Linked DNA regions of Homo sapiens: regions 2, 3 and 4 are each linked to region 1. The links come from fine-mapping of genetic effects on gene expression. A gene starts in region 1. Each other region holds a variant in brackets. All regions are shown on one strand. Distances are from middle to middle. Region 1 holds the start of NINJ1 (ninjurin 1). Region 2 overlaps WNK2 (WNK lysine deficient protein kinase 2). Region 3 has its middle 20 kb from the start of NINJ1. Region 4 overlaps SUSD3 (sushi domain containing 3).

Region 1 (5,143 bases):
AAACGGCATACCTGCCTGCAAGCCTCTCCGAGGTGGAGGAGGCCAGGGACTGGCTGCTTCTGAAGGCTTTCTGTAGGTGAAAACATGGTCCATCTGACCCATGGACCTTTCAACAGCTTGGTGCTTTCACCGCATGTTCCCCCAGGTCTGAGAGACACAACTGTACTCCCCATAGTACGCGGTGGGGGTCGCTTAGACCGTGCTTAGTCCCAGCTCCTAGGACAGTGGGTGAGTAGAAGGTCCAAGCCTCCGGTGTGCCTGTTCTCTGCCCCACTGGGGTCTCATTCTTGGTCAGCGGGATGGAGCCACCTGCTTGAGGTGGCACTGTGAGGAGCACGCTGGGGTGACACCTCCATGGTCCTCACATGCCATCTTGCCTTATACCCACTTTACATATGAGGAAGCACATCCCAAGCCAGAAGGGGCAGATCTGAACTCAACACAACGCCAGCCCCAGAAGAATCCACTAGAGTCTTTGATGGGGGAGAGGGATGCACCAAGCCTCCCTGGGCACCAGAGAGGCATCCTGAGATACCCTGTGGGCTCCTCCACAGAGGCCTGGGGCCCTCGTACATATACAGTGTTTGTGTGTGCACACCCACCCACACATAGGGCTGCTCTGCTGGGGCATCTGCCAGCCCGTTCCTCCCAGCCACACCCCTCCTCTGTGTCTCTCCTGGGGACATGTCCCTCAGCTCAGGGTCAGCGTCTAGAAACTGGTCTTGGACAGCTCATGCACTCATGGTCTCCAGGAGAACTTGAAAGTAGGTGGTTGGGCCCGGTGCAGTGGCTCACGCCTGTAATCCTTTCACTTTGGGAGGCTGAGGTAGGCAGATCACAAGGTCAGGAGATCGAGACCATCCTGGCTAACATGGTGAAACCCCGTCTCTACTAAAAATACAAAAAATTAGCCAGGCGTGGTGGCGGGCGCCTGTAGTCCCAGCTACTCGAGAGCCTGAGGCAGGAGAATCGCTTGAACCTGGGAGGCGGAGCTTGCAGTGAGCCAAAATCGCGCCACTGCACTCCAGCCTGAGCAATAGAACGAGACTCCATCTCAAAAAAAAGAAAAAAAAAAGGTAGATGGAGGTGACACGGGGTACACTGTGCCTTTAAGACTTGTCCTGGGTTGGATCCAGCAGAGAACAGTTGGGTAAACAGCATTGAGCACAGTGGGGAAAACAGACACTACATACTCAAATGAGGATGACGGAGCAGACGAGGGAACTCCAGCGCTGCAGCCTGCCTGAGCCCTGACACCCACACGTCCTGCCAGCAGCCCCAGGAGCTGAGGAAACTGAGGCTGGGAGAGGGTCTCAGACGGCCAGCACAGAGCAGGTTTACAAACCCCGAGGCTGATGTCCCAACTGTCACTGGTGCTGCGACCCTCCCGGCTTCCTCTTAGAAGGTGGGAATGGGGCCAGGCGCAGTGGCTCATGCCTGTAATCCTAGCACTTTAGGAGGCTGAGGCGGGCAGATCACCTGAGGTCAGGAGGTGATCTGGCCAACATGGTGAAATTCTGTCTCTACCAAAAATACAAAAATTAGCCGGGCGTGGTGGCGCACACCTGTAGTCCCAGCTACTCAGGAGGCTGAGGCAGGAGAACGGTGTGAACCCGGGAGGTGGAGCTTGCAGTGAGCCAAGATCGCACCACTACACTCTAGCATGGGCGACAGAGCAAGACTCCATCTCAAAAAAAAAAAAAAAAAAGGATGGGAATGATGAACCACACTGCAGGAGCTCCCACATGGCACAAAGGAAAGAATACTCTCAGGACGGGGTCTCCACCTGCCAAGCCCTCCTACTTCGGGGCCTCTCTACACGCCCTTGGCCTTCCAAGGTCTCAGGGCTCCCCTGCAGCTCCCAGGGCCCTTTCTGGGTGTGACGTATTTTCTCTGTGGTCCCACACCTCCTGCCCCTCCAGGAATTGAGCCCTCGTGGGCAGGCACTATCCCCCAGAATAGGGATTTGTCCCATACTGTGAGAGAGTTTTTTGTGTGAATGGTGCTGGATTTCCAGCTGCTGGTGAACACTCAGGTGTGCCAACAGTGCCCTGATTATGCGAGGACAACAGCAACCATCCCCGTCGTGGGCCACCGTGCCAGACCCTGTCCTGCAGATCCCCTCTGAGGCAGAGCTGGGGCAGTGACAGCCTGAGCCTCAGTTTCTCTGCTGTGAAGTGGGCCCACGACAGCTCCTCCTTCATGGGATGACCCCGTTTGGAGGATCAGGGCAAGCGCAATCCTGCTGCCCTGCCCATGCCCACTCACTCCTACCTCCTGTCCCGGTGGCAGCCTGACTGGACAGAGCCTGGGGTCTGAGCTGGCCTTCCTTCCACTGCCCTTCTGGAAATAGAGTGGCCATACTGCCGCAAGCTGACTATGCTGTGGTCAGGATGAACTCCCCTGGCCTCCCAGGGTGGCCGCCACATGCTCTCGACCCCCAGGCCCCCAGATGGGCAAAGTGCTGAGGAATGAACATATGGAGAAACAGAGACCAAACAACCACTTCAATCATACAACAGGTGGGGGCCCGCCTAGCATCTGGCCAGGGCTCTGGGCACTGTGCTGCCCCCAGCCCACCCCCTGCCACAGGTGGCACAGATGGGCCCATGAGTCAGCGCACGTTCATCCCCTTTGTGCCTCCCCCAGCCCCTCCAGCAGTCTGTGCCCTCATAACCCCCATTTCCCAGGCAGGAAAACCTAAGGTCAGGGAGTGGGAAGCCCTGTGTCAGCGTGGCCCGCAATCAGGGGAACCCCGGACTCTCTGACGCTGTTACTAGGGGCGCAGCAGGCGCTGTGCTGGAGCGATCTGCGGTTCCCAGGGCGAACCCCGCCTGGGAAAAACCCAGCGTGGGCGCCAGCGGCAACGCCCGCTCGCTTTCATGCAGTTTGCCTGGTGGCCAGGGAAAGGTCGTTCTTGGCCTCATTTTGTGGATTAAAAGTGTCCGCGACGGAGGTTCAGAGCAAGACGCAGCGCAGGGTCCTCTGGGGCCATCGGCGTCGCGCCCCCTCCCTTGTGGGGCCCCGCGGGACCGTCTCAGGCCCGAGGGGTTGGGGTCGCCCCAAACTGCGCGCTCTCAGCGTACAGCCTCCAGGCCCCGGGCCCGCCCCGGGTGGAGGCGGAGTCTGGGGCAGCAGCTCGCCGCCGGGCGGGCCGGGGGCGGGCCGGGGGCGGGCGCGCAGCTGGAGCCTGCGGCTGAGGCTCGGGCGCGCTCAGGCCCGGATCCTGGCGGCCTGGGCGGCCGCACCATGGACTCGGGAACCGAGGAGTACGAGCTCAACGGCGGCCTGCCTCCGGGCACACCCGGCTCCCCGGACGCCTCGGTAAGACCTTCCCCCCACCGCTGCATGATCTTGCCAGGCCCTGTCCTTTCGGGGCGCCGCGGCTCCCCGGGCACCTGTGTGCGCCGCGTCCGCACTGCAGAGTGTTGGGGGACGTCCCGCTCTAGGCCAAGTCCTTCCCGCCCCATCAGGGTCAGAACGATGCCCCCGGGAGCTCCAGCCACCCCCGGCAAGTGGGCGGGACGAGGGGGCGTGGGGGCGCAGGGCGGGCTGGCGTCCCCAGCCCCACTAAGCAGCGCCCGCGCTTGGCTGCACGGCGGAGGGGGCCTCGGCGCAGCTCCTCGGGCTAAGGACTGCCGGCGCCCGGCTTTCCCGACCTCCCCCCCACTCTCGCGCGGGCCTCTCTAACTTCAGCCTCGCCGTGCCGGCTCCTCCGCGCACTTTGCCCGGAGGCGGGCGGAGGGGAGTCACAGCCTCCGGGCTCCAGACCAGCTGCATGCAGACAGTTACGTCACCCCACGCTGACCACACAATCTGATGCGTGCCTTGATGGGGGAACTTGGGGCCCGCTGTGGTCCCTATTCCACTCACCTGCCTTGAGAAATAGAAACGTCACACAGCCTTCAGTGTATGCCGCCACCGGCCCTCCAGAACTTGCCCTGCCCGGCCTGGGAGGGCTGTGGGCAGGGGGCAGGCCCTGGTAGTGGTCCCGCTTCAGAATTCTTCATCCCAGGACTCAGCACTTACTGAGCACCTTGTGTTTGTTGCAAGGTCCTGGCATGGCCCTCTGGTGACTTGTTTACTTTGAACATTCTTTCCTTTTCTAACCCCCTCAGGGATGGGGGCAGGGAACAGCAGCCTGTTGGGTTTTTCCAGGCCTCTCCATGGCGTGGACCAGACTGGGGCAAAGACACTCTGCCCACTCGCTGGTGAACAGTCCTAGGCCGGTGCTGTGGGGACAGGACATGTTCGGGGAGGCGGGGCCCCATGAGCCACGGGATAGGATGGCCCTGGGGCTGCATGGACACTTGTTCCTAGGTTAGAGAGGAGCTGTCGCACTGCAGGACTTGACCGGTGTGCGGGACCCCAGCGACCTGGCCCTGCCCCAGTGTGTGAGCACTTTGGAGCAATAGGCAGGGGGCTCCTCCGGCTGTGTGTCCTTGGGAAGTTGCCACACCTCGCTGGGCCTTTTAGACATGGTCTTATAAAGAGAGAACAAAGGGTCTCTCCTGCCTTCAGGGAAGTGGGGAAAGCAAGTCAGGTAATAAACAGGTCAGTGGCTTGGAAGCGCCTTGGAAAGGAAGGGATACTGCTCCTCCCCCAACCCTGACCTTGCCCGGGCAATGCCCTCCACTCAGAGCAGTCTCTGCTCACTTCTGCGGGCGGCAGGATAGGCTGTGCCTCCTGAGATGGGTGCATCTCAAGCCCAGAGGAGATTGGGTTGGATTTGTTCCCGGATCACTGTCTTGGCTCTGGGCACCAGAGGGAGAGAGACACAGCCCCGCCCCACCAAGCCGCGGTTGGAGAGCAGCCCAGCCCAGACAGGGCAGGAGAGGCCAGGGCAAAGCAGGGGGTTCCCTGGGGGCTGGGAGCCCATCGTGGGGGGCGGGGCATGGTGGTCAGGGAAGGCTTTCTGTGGAGGTGGGGACATTGGCTCTGAGCCCTGGAGGGCAGGGAAGGTGGGTGAGCAGATCTGGCTCTCTGAGATGTGTGGAAGGGCATCTAGGCAGAGGGAACAGTGGGAGCAAAGGCTCAGAGGCTGGACCACAGAGCACATGAGGGCCAGGTAGGAGGTGGGGGGATGGGAAGCCAGGCCGATGGGAGGGGCCTTGCAGGCCTGATCACGGTCTGGTGTCCAGGG
Region 2 (5,143 bases), 100 kb before region 1:
TACCATTCAGAACCTTCTTGGGTCACCCTACTTCTGTCAAAGCCACCATCACCCCGGCCACAACACACTGCACACCTCCACCTCAGCTGCAGAATTTGATACTGGGGTTAACACCTCAAATGCAGCAGTCAGTCTCTGGAAAGGTGTTGATCAGAGCTTCACCGAGCCTCCCAAGTAGGGCCACGAGGGCCCCTGTTCCAGGAGGCTAGTAGAGGCAGCGCCATGATGCGGTGGATGGGATGCCTCCTACAGAGCCGGGCCTTTCTAACCACACCTGGGCTTCCTCCCCACACCTCCTCCTTGAGGGTGCAGGAGCACTATTTGTGGTCACTGCTGCTGGCCAAGGGCCAGGCCATGCGGCTTTGTTGCGGGGGGGTGCGGGTGGCAGCCTGAGGGACAGTGGCTCCTCACCCAGCTGATGGCTGTGCATGAAGGGAGCAGAGGGCAAGCCCTGCAACCGGACTCAGAAGCAGCAGGGCGGGGCCAGGTGCTGCTTGCAATCTGCTAGGTTGTTTTGTGTTGGAAGTGGAGTAAGACGGTGTATGAGCAACTAATTTTAAAAAATTTTAAACACAATGAGGGTACCAACTATCACGTTCTTTCTCCTTCAACACGATTTAGCCTTCAAAAGCTTCACCTGACTCTTAATATAGAGAACATAAAGCATAAATTTTCCCAAGGTCAGGGAGGAGGGTGGGGGCACGCCCACCTGCCCTGGGTGCTGGAGCCCCCAGCCTGGGGCAGACACAGGAGTGAAGAACCTAAGGGCTCTGCCCAGTAGTGTACACCCCCAGGGTCGAGGAGCACCACCAGCCCCTGGGACAGCTTCAGGACAGACCACCATCCACCCTCCACAGTGAACCCAGGGGCCCTCCCATCCCACACCAGCACCCCAAGGCCTGGCAAATGGAGCTCTTAATCTCTGGAGCGCCCCACTTCCTCCTGCTGCAGACCATCCCTGCCTCCCTGGAGGGCCGCTGCACACAGCCAGCAGGTCCTGACACTCCTTCCAGTACCCACGGAAAACTGTGCACCTGTCTGTGAAGTTTCTGACCCAGGCCCACAGGTGAGTCAAGGACTCTGTCTGCCCTCCCACTTCCTCAGGGGCACACAGGAGGGGCTCAGAACAACCAAGTGACCGATGATTTACAACAACCAAGGGACAGAAATGCAGGTAATCTGCAAGGAGGGCTCGGGATGGAGGGATGGGTCAGAGTGAGGCTGTGCAGCTGCTGAGGACCACAGCCCCTGGTGCACCTGCAGAAGCAGCCATGGCCCCGCAGAGCAGCACTGAGGGGCAGCGCGGCCCCACCCAGTCAGGTGGCATGTGGAGACAGCAGGGACTGCAGGGATCAGGGCAGCCTGGGCCCTCAGTGCAGACGCCGCATGTCAGGGACAGCTCTGCAGGCCCCTGGGCTTCACAACAAGACGGGTGGTGCAGAAAACAGGCACAGAAAGCCTTGGCCTGGCCATTCCATTTCCAGATGTTCTGTTTGCATTCCCTCCACCCAGTGGGGCCACCACAGAGGGAGGACAAGACAGATCTGTTTATGCAGCTGAAGCCGTCCGATTAAAGAAAAAAATCACAGCGACAGCAAAACAGGGATTAACGTTCCCAGCTGCCTGGCGCTGACGACTGCCTAGAGACACACTTGGTGTAGGAGTGACTGGTTTAGCTGAAAAAGAAATCAAACCATTGTTTCAAAATGAAGAAGATAGGAAAGCAGGCAGCCATGGGCGGCCCAGAGTGTGAGCACTGGGGATGGGTGGCCTAGGCACGCCTCCAGGCAGGGGGCTATGGTGAAGCTCCAGCCTCTCTGAGCCTCAGTCTCCCCACCATCCCTGCTGTGAGAGCGACAGCCTCCATGGGTAAGCACTGCCCACAGCACCCCATGCACCACCATCCCTTCAGGTAGGAGACCTTGAGTAACCACCCCGCTACTAAGCCTCAGTTTCCCCCTCTGTAAAATGGCCAATCTCCTCAGTTTCCCCCTCTGCAAAATGGCCAAGCTCCTTACACAGCTGCCAGGATGGCTTTACAGAGCCACATGGAGCCCAGCCCAGGGTACGGCCCAAGGCCTCTGTGTCCTTATTAATTAACCAAGGGGCCAGGTGGACTCACACAGGTGACCTTGCGGTAGATCTGGGCCGCATTCTGGCACTCCGAGTAGGGGTACTCCGAGGTGGCCATCTCCAGCATGCACATCCCAAAGGCATAGACGTCCACGGACTCATCGTAGTGCTCCTCGTACATCTCGGGCGCCATGAACTCGGGAGTACCTGTGCCCGGAAGCAACAGACGCAGCTGTCAGCTGGCCACGGGCCCAGGAAGAGCTGGAGCCAGTGTCCCGGGAGCTTTGGCTGCCCAGAACCCCATGTCCCCTCCACATCCCATGGCACACTCAGAACACCTGGACCCCAGGGCCAGCCCTGCCCCTCACTTGGGACACAGGTGTGCTTTACAGACAGGGTTCCAAAAGTTCCACCTGGAACCACAGGAGTCCAGGGTTAGAAATCAGGTGACAGAGCCATCCCCTGCTCATAAGCTGGGAGACTATGACTTCCCAGGGGACGGGGTCCGAGCCTGGAAGGAGGCAAAACCCTGAGTACGCCCTCGCCTGTGGACACTATGATCCTGCCACAGGCTCGGCCGCAGCCACGTTCAGAAACCCTGGAGCAGAAAGAACTTGGGTTGCTACGGAGCTACCTAAAGCCACAAAACCCCTAAATGTCCCAAAGTGGGGAAAGGCTGGGTACACTCAGCCCACCCCTACAAGTGTCACGCAGCATGTACAA[C/T]AGTCAGCATCACTGAAGACAGTGTCCCTGAATGAGGGTGGGGTAGAAAATGGTACCCACCTGACAGAACCACAGAGTTGCTAAGATGGGAACTGTATGTGGCTCCTAAACACAAGAGATGCAAAAACAGTGTCTTCACTGAATTTTTAAGGACATGGCAAAGTTATGATAGGCTGAGCAAAATGAGCATGAGGCTAGACGTGCTGGCTGGCCTCACCTATGCAAAACCAAACCCCCAGGGCAAGATGATGTCTGCAGGGGGCGAGGGCTGATTTTTATTTTACTTATATTGGTCTGGGGTTTCTCTATTCTCTATAATAAGCTTTAGCTTTCATAATACAGCAACTGTAAAGGCCTTTTTAATAAAATAAGTCCGGTTGCATGTCTGTCGCGCTGAATGCAAAGAAAGGGACTAGAGACTTCAGTACAGCTGCTTTTAACGTCTGGATGTTTGTTGACTTTGGAAGGTCTTCAAAATTTCTAGTTTCTTTTTAAAAGCTCAAGCTAACTAATTAGTGCATTTTAAAAGCACGTTTTGTTTACCCGTCATTTCAATTTAAAATGTGTTACTTTTTTTTTTTTTTTTTTTTGAGACGGAATCTCACTCTGTCCCCCAGGCTGGAGTGCAATGGTGCAATCTTGGCTCACTGCAACCTCCATCTCCCACCCAGGTTCAAGCAATTCTCCTGCTTCAGCCTCCCAAGTAGCTGGGACTACAGGCGTCTGCCGCCATGCCTGGCTAATTTATTTGTATTTTTGGTAGAGACAGGATTTCACCATGTTGGTCAGGCTGTTCTCGAACTTCTGACCTCAAATGATCCGCCCGCCTCAGCCTCCCAAAGTACTGGGATTAGAGGTGTGAGTCACTGTGCCTGGCCACTCTTTTTTAAAGTTAACATTTTGGATAAAAATTGGGACAAGAATATGGTTTAGATTTCAGTCTTAGGCACACAGAACTCTGGAAGAACCCATGAGAAACAACAGGAGCTGAGTGGAGGGGCCTGACGCCGGGAACTTTTATTCTTTTGGGTTTTTTAACCACATGATTATACTGAAAATTTGCTGCACTAGCAATTTTTTTTTTTTTTTTTTTTGAGACTGGATCGTGCCCTGTCGCCCAGGCTCGAGTGCAGTGGCATGAACACAGCTCACTGCAACCTCGACCTCCCAGTCTCAAGCAATCCTCCCACCTCAGCCTCCCAAGTAGCTGGGACTACAGGTGTTCACCATGCCGGGCCAATTTCTTTTTCTTTCTCTTTCTTTTCTTTCTTTCTTTATTTCTCTCTCTTTCCTTCCTTCCCCCGCCTTTTTTTTTTTTTTTTTTTTTGTAGAGACAGGGATCTCACTACATTGCCTAGACTAGCCTCGAACCCCTGAGCTTAAGCAATTCTCCTGCTTCAGCCTCATTCTCTAGGAGACTGAGCAGCTGAGGACACTCCTGGTTGTGGCCTCTCTAACCAAAGCTTCCTGGACTCCAGCTGAGCAAAAGCTGGGTTGACGAGGGACAGCCCACAGAGCTGGGCAACCATGCGGGTCACAAGGTCTCCCCACTGTGCCTGCTGGAAACACCTGGCCTTCATCTCAACCTGATCCAGCAACTCGAAACTTCGTTTCCAAGAGGGCAAAGAGCCGCCCAGCCAGAGGAAGACGAGGGGCTCTGCCGGGGCTGCCGCTTCACAGTGGGCTGTGCTTCTTCCTCCAGGAGTGTTCACTCCTGAGTAGGAGATCACAAGCCTCCCTCCTGCCACCTGACTGCGCCCGGGGTTTGAGACCTGGGTTCCTACCACTTCTGAAGCCAAATTTGCAAAATCTGCCCAGAAAGTGCACAGAGCTCAAAGCCCTGGGCATGGGCTCTCCACGGTCCTGGGCCCCTGCTCTCAGCCCCTCCAGGAGGGAGTGGAGACCCTCACCTATATACCCATTTCACAGATGGGGAAACTGAACCCTGGGTCAGCCCCTACGCTCCACCACTCAGCTCCCCCAGAATGCCAGAGGCTTTGTGTACACAGGGCCACCCCCGGGCAGCCACCTTGCCCCAGATGTCACATTCTGAACAGACTTCCCAAACCAAAGCAGCTCTGGAGTCTCATTTTCCCCACACCTGCCAAGTTCTGTCCCCAAACATGCAGCAGAACTAAGAATTCACAAAGCCCCAAGATCGACTGCTCACTGTCCTGCCCTCACATTGGGGGCATGCTGGGTCTTCATTAACATGGGGGAGCCTCTCCCAATCTGATCCGATTGGGTGCCATCTGGGCTTCCTGAGCCCCGACCCACGCTGCTTGCCCTGCACATGTTGCAGCTTTCCCATCATCCTGGCCCCAGAAACAGCTGCTCCACAGCCACC
Region 3 (5,143 bases), 20 kb before region 1:
CATGGTTGCCTGGAGTAGAAACTACATCTCCCAGCTTCCGTTGTAGCTAGGTATGGCCACTTGGTGAAGTTCTGGCCACGACACATGAGTGAAAGTGTCCAGAAAGCTCTGAGAAGTGTCTTGGAGGGTCAGAGCGCACCTTTCTTCCTCCCTTCCTCCTTCCTGCTGGCTGGGATGCAAGCTTGATGACTGGAACTCAAGCAGCTATCTTAGGTCATGAGGTGGAGGCTACACGTGGAGAAAGCCAGGGCAGGAAGCTGGGAGGAAATGGGTGTCTGAGAATGTGGAGCTGCCACCGCAGCCATGTACAGCATGCCTCCAGACATCATTTGTGTAGTAAAGAAATGACTGTCTTGTTTAAGCAACTGGTACTTTGCCGTTTGTGTCACTCATAGCGACACTTAGCCCTGAGTGACAAAGCATATAGAGCCCCTGGCGCAGGGCCTGGCTCACGGCAGGTGCTCCAGCTGAGCATCCCCCAGTAACCCCGTACCTGCAGCAGGGAGAAGGGAACCCAGGCCTGAAGCCTAGGGACTCCCGTGAGCCTAGGAGAGAAGCTGACCCAGAGGAGGACATAAACTCCCACCAGCCCCGGCCTGCCCAGCTGTTGGTTGTAGGTCATTGGCCTTCGAAGGCCACACCACCCACGGTTTCTAGCACTTACTGTCCCACTGGCAGAGGGCATTGCCCTAAGAAGATGACATGTGTCCAGCCACATGCTTCCCTGACTGCAGATTCTACCAATTGAATTAGATTTTCCTCTGGTTGATGTTAGTGTGAGTCTTCATTTCCTGACCATCTGCTGTTTGGGTGTCAGGAAAGCCCTCTGGGTGCCAAAGGGATGGCAGCCCAGAATGGAAAAGGCTCCACAGATGCCAGTGAACAAAGAGGCTGAAGTGACGTTCTGCGGAGGCCCCACACTGGGCTGCCCCCTCTGCGCAGGCAGCGGTCCCACACACGGGGTTGGGCGCTCAGCCGCTTCCGAGCCCAGTGCCTGAGCCTTAACTTAGTCAAGAGCCCTTCTCACACTGAACACTTGTGAAAATAGGTTTATAGTCAACTAAGAGGGGAGGGGCGTGTGAGAGAAAGTGTGGAGGGGAGGCAGGGAGGCGGATAGCACAGTACCAATGCCTCTTGGGTCCCAGCATGACCAGCGCAGAAAAAGCACAGCCTCAGGCCACGCTGCACTTGTTTGCTTGTCTTCTAAATCCTAAACACCATGTGCTGGCTTTGGATGGCTCCATTGACACCCTTCCCCCATCACCTCCCGGAGCCTCACTGCCCCGTGTTAGCACTGAGCAGGCACTGGGAAGTCATCTCCTTATTGCTACCTGCCGCATTCACTGACACATTTTCTTCTATCTGCACACCCAGGTTCACAGCAGCATTATCCACAGAGCCAGGATACGGAAGCAACACAAGTGTCCAGCAACAGATGAGCAGATAAACAAAATGTGGTGTCTCCATATGATGGAATGTTATTCAGTCTCAACAAGAAGGACATTCTGGCACATGCTACACACGGATGAACCTTGAGGCCACTATGCTAAATGAAATAACTTGATCACAAAAGGACACATACTGCATGATTCCACGTATATGTGATACCCAGAGGAGTTGCATTCATAGAAACAGAGAGTCGGATGGCGGCTGCTAGGGCCTGGGGGAGGGAGGAATGGGGAGTCAGCATTGAATGGGGACAGAGTTTCAGTTTGGGATAATGAAAAAGCTCTAGAGGTCTGTTTCATAAATCTGGATATATTTACACTACTGAACTATACACTTAACATGGTTAAGGCCAGGCGCGGTGGCTCATGCCTGTAATCCTAGCACTTTGGGAGGCCAAGGCGGGTGGATCACCTGGGGTCAGGAGTTCAAGGCCAGCCTGGCCAACATAGCGAAACCCCATCTCTACTAAAAATACAAAAATTATCTCGGCGTGGTGGCACGTGCCTGTAGACCCAGCTACTCAGGAGGAGTAGCTACTCAGACAGGAGAATCGCTTTAACCCGGGAGGCAGAGGTTGCAGCGAGCCAAGATCACATCATTGCACTCCAGCCTGGGCGACAGAGCGAGACTCTGTCTCAAAAAAAAAAAAAAAAACATAGTTAAGATGGCAAAAGAAAAATCATGTCACATTGATCACAGAC[C/A]TAAAGCTTCCAGAGGAAGACATAGAGGAGTATCTCTGTGGCTGTGTCATCAGGGATAGGAAACACACTGAGAAGATGTAAGAAAACTCAGGTGCTCGAGGGCCGAGCGAGGCACCAGGAAGGCCCATGTGGAAGGAGTGAGGCCTCCACAGAGAAGGTGTATTTGAGGCCCTCTAGATGTGCTTTTGTCTGCTGCTAAGTCCACGGGTTTGCCTGGCCCGGGCTAGTCTGCAGCCGCTGCTGGTGGGGTGCAGGCACTGTGGAACTGGGGCCCCGCCGGCCAGGTATGCAGCGAGTCTGGGTGTAGGCAGGCCTGGAGCATGTGGAATTCCAGATCAAGAGGGGATGGAAAGGTAGTCACCAGCCAGGGTCGAAAGGGGACGCGCATTTGGAGTACATGGCCAGCACCCCACACCATGGACCTGCCCTGCAGCTGTGGGAGTCCACAGAAGAGCCCCTTCCTCCTCCTACAGTGCCCCCAGCGCCCTCTATTGCCAAAAGGCTGGCACTGCACTCACTGGGAGGGAGAAATGTTATCCCAGAGCAGGAACTGAAGGGTGACTTGGAGCTCAGAGGTAGTGAACTGATGCAGTGACCCTAGGGGAAAAAAGAGACCTCTTGGACAGGATGCCAAAAGAAATAACCGTAAAATTTGGCCAGGTGGGCTTCAAAAATTTAAACCTTCTGCTTATCAAAAGACACTATTAAGAAAATAATAGACAAGACATAGAACTGGAAAAAATATTTACAACTATATCTGAAAAAGAACATGTATCCAGGCCCAGCACGGTGGCTCATGCCTGTAATCCCAGCACTTTGGGAGGCTGAGGGGGGTGGATCACCTGAAGTCAGGAGTTCGAGACCAGCCTGGCCAACATGGTGAAACCCGTGTCTACTAAAAATACAAAAATTAGCCGGGCGTGGTGGTGCACATCTGTAGTCCCAGCTACTCAGGAGGCTGAGGCAGGAGAATCGCTTGAACCCAGGAGACAGAGGTTACAGTGAGCCGAGATCGGATCACCGCACTCCAGCCTGGGTGACAGAGTGAGACTCCATCTCAAAAAAAAAAAAAAACCACATATCCATAATATATAAAGAACTCCTTTTAAAAGTCAATGCTAAAAAATGAATAACCTGGATTTTATTATTATTTTTTAGAGATGCAATCTTTCTCTGTTGCCCAGGCTAGAGTGCAGAGGTACAATCACAGCTCACGGCATGCAGCCTTGACCTCCTGGGCTCAAGGAATCCTCCCATCTCAGCCTCCTGAGTACCTGGGACTACAGACATGCATCACCATGCCCAGCTAATTAAAACAAAAATTTTTTTAGATGGACCTGAATTTTAAAATGAGCCAAAGACCTGAACAGACCCTTCACAAAAGAAAATATATGAAGAGCTGGCTGGGCGCAGTGAATCATGCCTGTAATCCCAGCACTTTGGGAGGCTGAGGCAGGCGGATCACGAGGTCAGGAGATCGAGACCATCCTGGCTAACATGGTGAAACCCCGTCTCTACTAAAAATACAAAAAGTTAGCCGGGCGTGGTGGCAGGCGCCTGTAGTCCCAGCTACTCAGGAGGCTGAGGCAGGAGAATGGTGTGAACCTGGGGAGGCGGAGCTTGCAGTGAGCCGAGATTGCACCACTGCACTCCAACCTGGGCAACAGAGCGAGACTCCATTTCAAAAAAAAGAAAAGAAAATATATGAAGAGCTAATGAACACGAATTTGTGTGCAATACCATTAGTCACCAGGGAACGGATAACTAAAACCTCAGTGAGTTACTACTTCAAACACATTATAATGGCTAAAATCTCAAAACCCGGAAAATATCAAGTGTTAGGACACGGAGCAAATGGAACACACAGCCACTCTGGAAAATGGTCTGTCAGTTTCTTATAAAACTAAACATACATTTACTATATAATGTGGAAATTTAATTCTGTTTACTCAGGAGAAGTACTTGTTTGAGTAAACAAGTACTTACACACCAGTGTCTTAAGGAATAGATTTATTTGTAACAACTAAAGCTGAACAACCCAAACGTCTATTCCCCAGGTACATGGATAAACACACTGGGGTGCATCCCAACAGTGGCGTGCTGGTTAGCAGGGAGAAGGACTTCAGAATTGCTGATCCAGGTAGCAATATGGATGAGCCTCAAAAACATTTTGTGGTGGGGCAAGGTGGCTCATGCCTGTAATCCCAGCACTCTGGGTAGGACTTCAGGTAGCACTGCTACCTGCAGTCAGGAGTTCGAGACCAGCCTGGCCAACATGGTGAAACTACTAAAAATACAGTCTTTACTAAAAATACAAAAATTAGCTAGGCGTCATGGTGGGCGCCTGTAATCCCAGCTACTCAGGAGGCTGAGGCAGGAGAATCGCTTGAACCTGGGATGCAGAGGTTGCGGTGAGCTGAGATCGTGCTATTGCACTCCAGCCTGGGCAACAAGAGCAAAACTCCATCTCAAAAAGAAAAAAAAGAATGAAAGAATGGATACTGGATATATCCATTCTCTGCCCCAGGGGACAGCATATTCAGTCCAGGTGACAGGTCAAGATGTGGCCAATTCAGTTCCGTATTTCCCAGCCTTCCTCAAAGATAAGGGTGGCCCTGAAACTTAAGGTGCAGTCTACCGGGGAAATTTAGGGCCTTTGCTTTTAAGAGAAAAGGGGGCCCATGTGGCTTGTGATCTCCTCCCTGTTTCTCCCTGGACTTCACACAGACATGCTGTCTGGACCTCAAGCAGCCCTATTGTGACCAGGAGGCAGCAACCCTGAGGAGAAGGCCAACAGCATCCCAGAGATGAGGCCCAACTCTGGCAGCGTGCCCAAGGATGAATTCTCTGGCCACCATCTCCCAAGGTCAGGCTGGACACCAGAGGGAGGACACACATTTGGTGATAAGTTGTGATGCTGCCTTTAAAACATTCACTCTCACCTGACCTGGAGATGAAGTACAAGCATTTCACCTACCTCCGTATCTCCACGA
Region 4 (5,143 bases), 53 kb after region 1:
CCAGCTGTCTGGCCAGGGCCTGGGATGTCCCAGGCAGAGAAGGGATGCTGGGGAGCAGGAGGTCAAGGGGAGGACATCTTCCCTCCTGCCAGGCCTGCCTCTTTGGTAGCCAGGAGCTGGATCACCCACCTGCTCCACCCTCAGTACTCTTGTGGCTCTCTACTCCCCCAGATACAAACCAAGCCATTCCCCAGGCTGACCAGACCCTGGCCCTGTCCCATCTCCAGCCTCCACACACACACTGGCCTCTGCTCCATGTGGGCTGCCTGGCGGCTCCCACCTCCAGCCCTTTGCATGTCCTCTCCTCCCCTCAGAGGCTGTCTCTCTCCCCTCCCAAAGCAGGCTCTCTTAGTCCTTTCACTTCCGGCATCACCTCTTCCAGGAAGCCTTCCTGGATCACGGCTCCCACCCACAACTAATTCTCAGAAAAACTCTAGTAAGTAGTAGGAATTAAGAAATGATCTGCTTATGCAATGAGTAAGTGAAAGCATCAATAACTGGTGGAGACGAAAGGCAGCTTCGGGGAGGCAGGAGCCAGACTGACTCCACCCAGCCTCACTTACTGGTTGTGTGGGAGTCTACACAAGTTTCTTAACCTGCCTAGTTCTTCACCTGGAAAACGGGATAAAAGTAGTACCCACCCCTAGGTGAAAAGAGTTAATATTTGGAAGAGTTCAGAACAGTGCCTGGCACATTGCAAGTGCTGAGAAGTACTTATGAAATAAAAACAAGGTCAAGAGGCAAACCTCACCTTGCTAAAGGCAATTTACCACCTATGGAGGCAGCCTGGGCCCTGCCTGAGGGGTGGGCAGCCCCAGCACAGGCATATCCCGAGGATCCTGCCTGGGAGCCCGGGGCCCAGGGCTGGGGACTCAGGGAACTCTGCCTCCATCGGCTTTGTAGCCCTGGGCAGGACCCGCCTTCTCTGAGTCCCCATGAAGCTGGGCTGAGTGCTCGAGGTCTCCATGTGTGAGAGAGCTCCGGGAAGGGGCTCTGCCCTAAGGGTCCCCCTCCCAATCCCCCTCAGCCTCACCACCACTTCCTGCCTCTTGAGCTGACTGTCAGAGTGGCCCCTAAGCCGGCCTCCTCCAGCCTCTCACGGCCCTGTCAGGGTGCCTCCCTCCCGCCCTGGCTCTCTCACTCCCCAGAGGGGGTGAACACAGCCCTGTACACAGATCTGTGGCCACTCTTGGACGGGACGCACACGTCCGACCACACACTGCACAAGTTCCCGCAGTGTAAGAGGCAGGGTCTGTGGCGCTGGGACCAGGCAGAAGTGTGGCCCCAAACAGCACCCCTGGGAGCCCCTCGGCATCATGCTCTGGCCAGCAAAGCCCCTGCGGCAGCGGCAGCAGCTGTGGCTGCCATCATCCTGGACACCATGTTGCCTTGAGAGGCAATTGTTCCTTCCCCCATTCCATGGGCACTTTCCCAGTTATGACACAGGATGATCTGGTCCCAGTGCTGTAATGGGGAGTGGGGATCACAGGTGGGGCAATGGAGGAGCTCTGAAAGTGGCTTTGGATATCTCACTACCCAAAAGGAAAGGCATTAGCCACCATGGCCCCAACAAAACTAAAATAAAAAGGAAAGGGGGTCAGGCACGGTGGCTCACGCCTGTAATCCCAGCACTTTGGGAGGCCGAGGTGGGCAGATCACGAGGTGAGGAGATCGAGACCATCCTGGCTAACACAGTGAAACCCTGTCTCTACTAAAAATACAAAAAATTAGCTGGGCATGGTGGCGGACACCTGTGGTCCCAGCTACTTGGGAGGCTGAGGCAGGAGAATGGTGTGAACCCGGGAGGCGGAGCTTGCAGTGAGCCGAGATCGCGCCACTGAACTCCAGCCTGGACGACAGAGCAAGACTCCGCCTCAAAAAAAAAAAAAAAAAAAAAAAAAGGAAAGAGGCCTAAAAAATGTACAGCCAATTGATGGGTCAGGTGCCCTCCCACAACACATGGAGCAAAACATTTGGAGGTAATTCAGCAGAGAAAACAGAAAATGACTCATGCCAGCAATGGCACTGGTGAGCCAAGGCTGGAGAAAACATTCTTCCTCGACATTCATCAAAGAAATGCTGACGGAAACTACCCACACAACTTGTAGCTACTGTAAGAAACAAATGATAAACAAATGGTCAGCACTCAGTGATGATGCAGTTACCAGAAAAATATGGCCACATTCACTTGTACCAGAGCTCCCAGGGAAAGAATGTGGTCATAAAATATTCAGACTGTTGGGCCTAAACAATCGATTCCTAGGATCAGCCCCAAGAGTTGTGGTCTTGAAAAAGAAAAACAGCACTAAGCAAAAAGACACTGACCACGCCTGACCACTCAACAGGGGAGGGTCTAGCAGATATTGGAAGCTTTGGAATAATGGGCTGCTGTAAGGAATGATAGCCTGGAGGCCTCAGACCACCATGGTGACCTGGAACGTGTTGCTAAGTGCAGAAGTATCAATGGCAGCATTTCGGCTACATCCTTGTTGATGTAATACACACTTGAAGCGTCAGGAAAGGAGACAGAAAGGTGAATTCCTTCCCTGCAGGTGTTGGCCAGACCCAGCACGGTGTGTGTAACCCAGGGCCACAGAGACCACCATCTCCTGTGCCTCAGTTTCCCCATCTGCATAAGGTCGTAAGAGTGGCAACGACAGTAACAGCCAGTATTCAATGAGCTCTCACCCTGGGCCTGGCGAGAGAGGCACACACCCGGACTCAGGTAACCTCAACAACTTGAAAGGGTGAGCGCTACTGCAATCCTCACTTTACAGGTGAGGAAACCGAGGCATGGAGCTGTTAGTCATACAGTGAGGCCATGAGGGCTGGGACCAAGTGCACTGCAGCCTCGAAAGACTCCAGCAGGAGGGCCTGAAGGAAGGGAACACAAGCTCAATGATGTCGTCTGGATGCCCGCCCAGACCCCGGTGTCTAAGCGCTGTTCTCCACCCACAGAAACAGGGCTCCCAGAGCAGTGGCCAACCGCAGAGATGGGCACAGAAAGCATGAGATGGGCCTGGAACATCTTGTGCAAGGCAG[G/T]AAGCACTCACAGACTGATGGGGATGGATCAGAAGGACACAGGCCATGGCTTGGCAGAGCTCCTACTGCCAAGAACTGGAGCCCACAAAAAGTGTGCTTGAAAATAATGTGGGGGAAGGGGCATGAATGAGGTTGCCTGGCTTAGCTGGTGACCATGAGAATGGGAGGCAGGGACAGGAGATCTGTGACAATATTCTACTTTTGTGTATTTGTGAACTTTTCCCAAAATAAAAGTTTCAGAAAAGAATATTCATGAGTTCATGTGATGCTAAAACAACAAAACAAAATCAAAAGAAAGGAAAGAAAAAAACAGCTCATCCTCATCCCTGATAGAAGGAATGTCAGAAGTGCAACAGAATTAACAAAGTCACCATTCTGTAATGCCCAAGGCAAGAGCGGATCTGGCAGGATCAGCCTTGCACGCTGAGACCACAAGTCAGAGGCCGCTGAGACAGTGGAGGGACACTTGCAGAGCCCCTTCCTCAGGCTCTGACAGTGGAGGGACCTGGGGGGCTTCGCCTCAGCCAAGAGACCCCATTCCATGTGGCCCGTGGGGGCAGCCTGGCCCATGTCTGTGATCTGCACATGTAGCCCTGCACCAGAAATGCAGAGCCGGGCCTGGTCACACAGAAACACCAGACAGACGCAGACAGGAGCCTCTGCATGCGACCACTGGCCTGGAACCCTCAGAAGACTATGCCATGAAAAACTGAAGGCCCATACCAGTTTAAGGAGCCCAGAGACCTGGTGGCTGAGTGCTGCGTGTGATTATGGACATTCTCCACTCAACAGGCCACGTGCAATCAATATTAGATTTCTGTTAGTTTTGTTTTTTTTTTTTTTTTTTTTTTGAGACGGAGTCTCGCTCTGTCGCCCAGGCTGGAGTGCGGTGGCACAACCTTGGCTCACTACAAGCTCCGCCTCCTGGGTTCAAGTGATTCTCCTGTCTCTGCCTCCCAAGTAGCTGGGATTAAAGGCACACTCCGCCACACCCAGGTAATGTTTGTGTTTTTAGTAGAGACGGGATTTCACCATGTTGGCCTCGAACTCCTGACCTCAGGTGATCCTCCCACCTCAGCCTCCCAAACTGCTGGGATTACAGGTGTGAGCCACCAAGCCTGGCCAATCAGTATTAAATTTCTGGACTCAGAAAAAGAATGTCCTTATATTGGTTCAGGGCAAAAAAATGTATGTGTGTATTAAGAGAGAGAGAAAGGAGAGGGACAGAGCACGGGAGGGAGAGCAAGTGACTGCAGCTCAGTGCAGAGCCCTGCTGGGTGTAGGTGGAGGGAACACAGGTGTGTAGAAGCTTCAGCTTCCCTGGAGGGTGGACCCTCCAGATGAAAACACTGCTGGGGGCAGTTCTGAGTCCTAGAATGTCAGAGTCAGGACAGAGTGCTACAAGGACCACCAGCCTCTTGTTTTAGAGATGGGAGTTAAGGTTCTGGGTGGGCTAGGCGTGTGGGAGCAGCAGGCTCTCAGCGTGTGGGAGCAGCAGGTGGCCCGGGGCCTGACCAAGCTGGACCCCTTGTCCCCCAGCATGTCCCCTACCCAGACCCGGGCTCACGTGGTGAAGCTGTGGTTGTCGTGCGCCTGGCTGGGCCCGCTCACGGGTTTGTTGAAGTGCTTGAGGCCAAGGTATGCGGCCTGCACCGTCTCCAAGTCCTCATCTTTCAGCTGGGACCACAGCTGGGCTGACCTGGAGGAGAGTTTGGGAGGAAGGACTCTGAGCATGCAGGTGTATCCCTGACGGTGGTGGAAACAGGCTCCATGTAGGCCCAGGGCACCGTCTGCAGGACCAGTGCAGGCTGGCAAACCTCTCAAAGAGCTGGGCAGTGGATGTTTTTGGTGTGGTGAGACACATGATTTCTCCCACAGCTAAACTCTGCAATTGCAGCCCAAAAGTAGCCACACACCAGTAGACAATGAACATGGCTGTGTTCCAATAAAACTTTACTTACAAATACAGGTGGTGGAAAGTTCTAGGGCTGGACAGTGCTAATGGCTGCACTACATCGTGAACATACTTAATGCTACTGAACTGTAGACGTTAAAAAGGTTAAGTTTTGGCCAGGCGCAGTGGCTCATGCCTGTAATCCCA

What was found. PIP is the estimated chance that this variant, and not a neighbour inherited with it, causes the effect. A credible set is the group of variants that fine-mapping cannot tell apart.
Region 2: its variant is the best candidate, but not a certain one, in a credible set for the expression of NINJ1 in whole blood (INTERVAL, PIP 0.84).
Region 3: its variant is the best candidate, but not a certain one, in a credible set for the expression of NINJ1 in whole blood (INTERVAL, PIP 0.70).
Region 4: its variant is the best candidate, but not a certain one, in a credible set for the expression of NINJ1 in whole blood (INTERVAL, PIP 0.81).

The regions. Positions count from the first base shown.
Region 1 is chr9:93,132,324-93,137,466 of GRCh38, reverse strand. NINJ1 (ninjurin 1) reads left to right here and starts at 3,216. Exons shown (of 4, transcript NM_004148.4): 1 at 3,216-3,324. The coding sequence starts at 3,250. LOC124902212 (a long non-coding RNA gene) reads right to left here and starts at 4,455. Exons shown (of 3, transcript XR_007061665.1): 1 at 3,874-4,455. RefSeq lists enhancers at 1,906-2,502, 3,962-4,011 and silencers at 2,472-2,521, 3,022-3,251, 3,422-3,671.
Region 2 is chr9:93,231,945-93,237,087 of GRCh38, reverse strand. WNK2 (WNK lysine deficient protein kinase 2) reads right to left here. Exons shown (of 30, transcript NM_006648.4): 5 at 2,123-2,280. Among named protein-coding and RNA genes, the nearest start is that of WNK2, 50 kb to the right of the region's middle. The variant C/T (reference allele first, on the strand shown) is at 2,797.
Region 3 is chr9:93,151,978-93,157,120 of GRCh38, reverse strand. No RefSeq gene overlaps it. Among named protein-coding and RNA genes, the nearest start is that of NINJ1, 20 kb to the right of the region's middle. RefSeq lists enhancers at 158-217, 258-307. The variant C/A (reference allele first, on the strand shown) is at 2,151.
Region 4 is chr9:93,079,069-93,084,211 of GRCh38, reverse strand. SUSD3 (sushi domain containing 3) reads right to left here. Exons shown (of 5, transcript NM_145006.4): 4 at 4,610-4,741. Among named protein-coding and RNA genes, the nearest start is that of CARD19, 15 kb to the left of the region's middle. RefSeq lists an enhancer at 1,057-1,685. The variant G/T (reference allele first, on the strand shown) is at 3,043.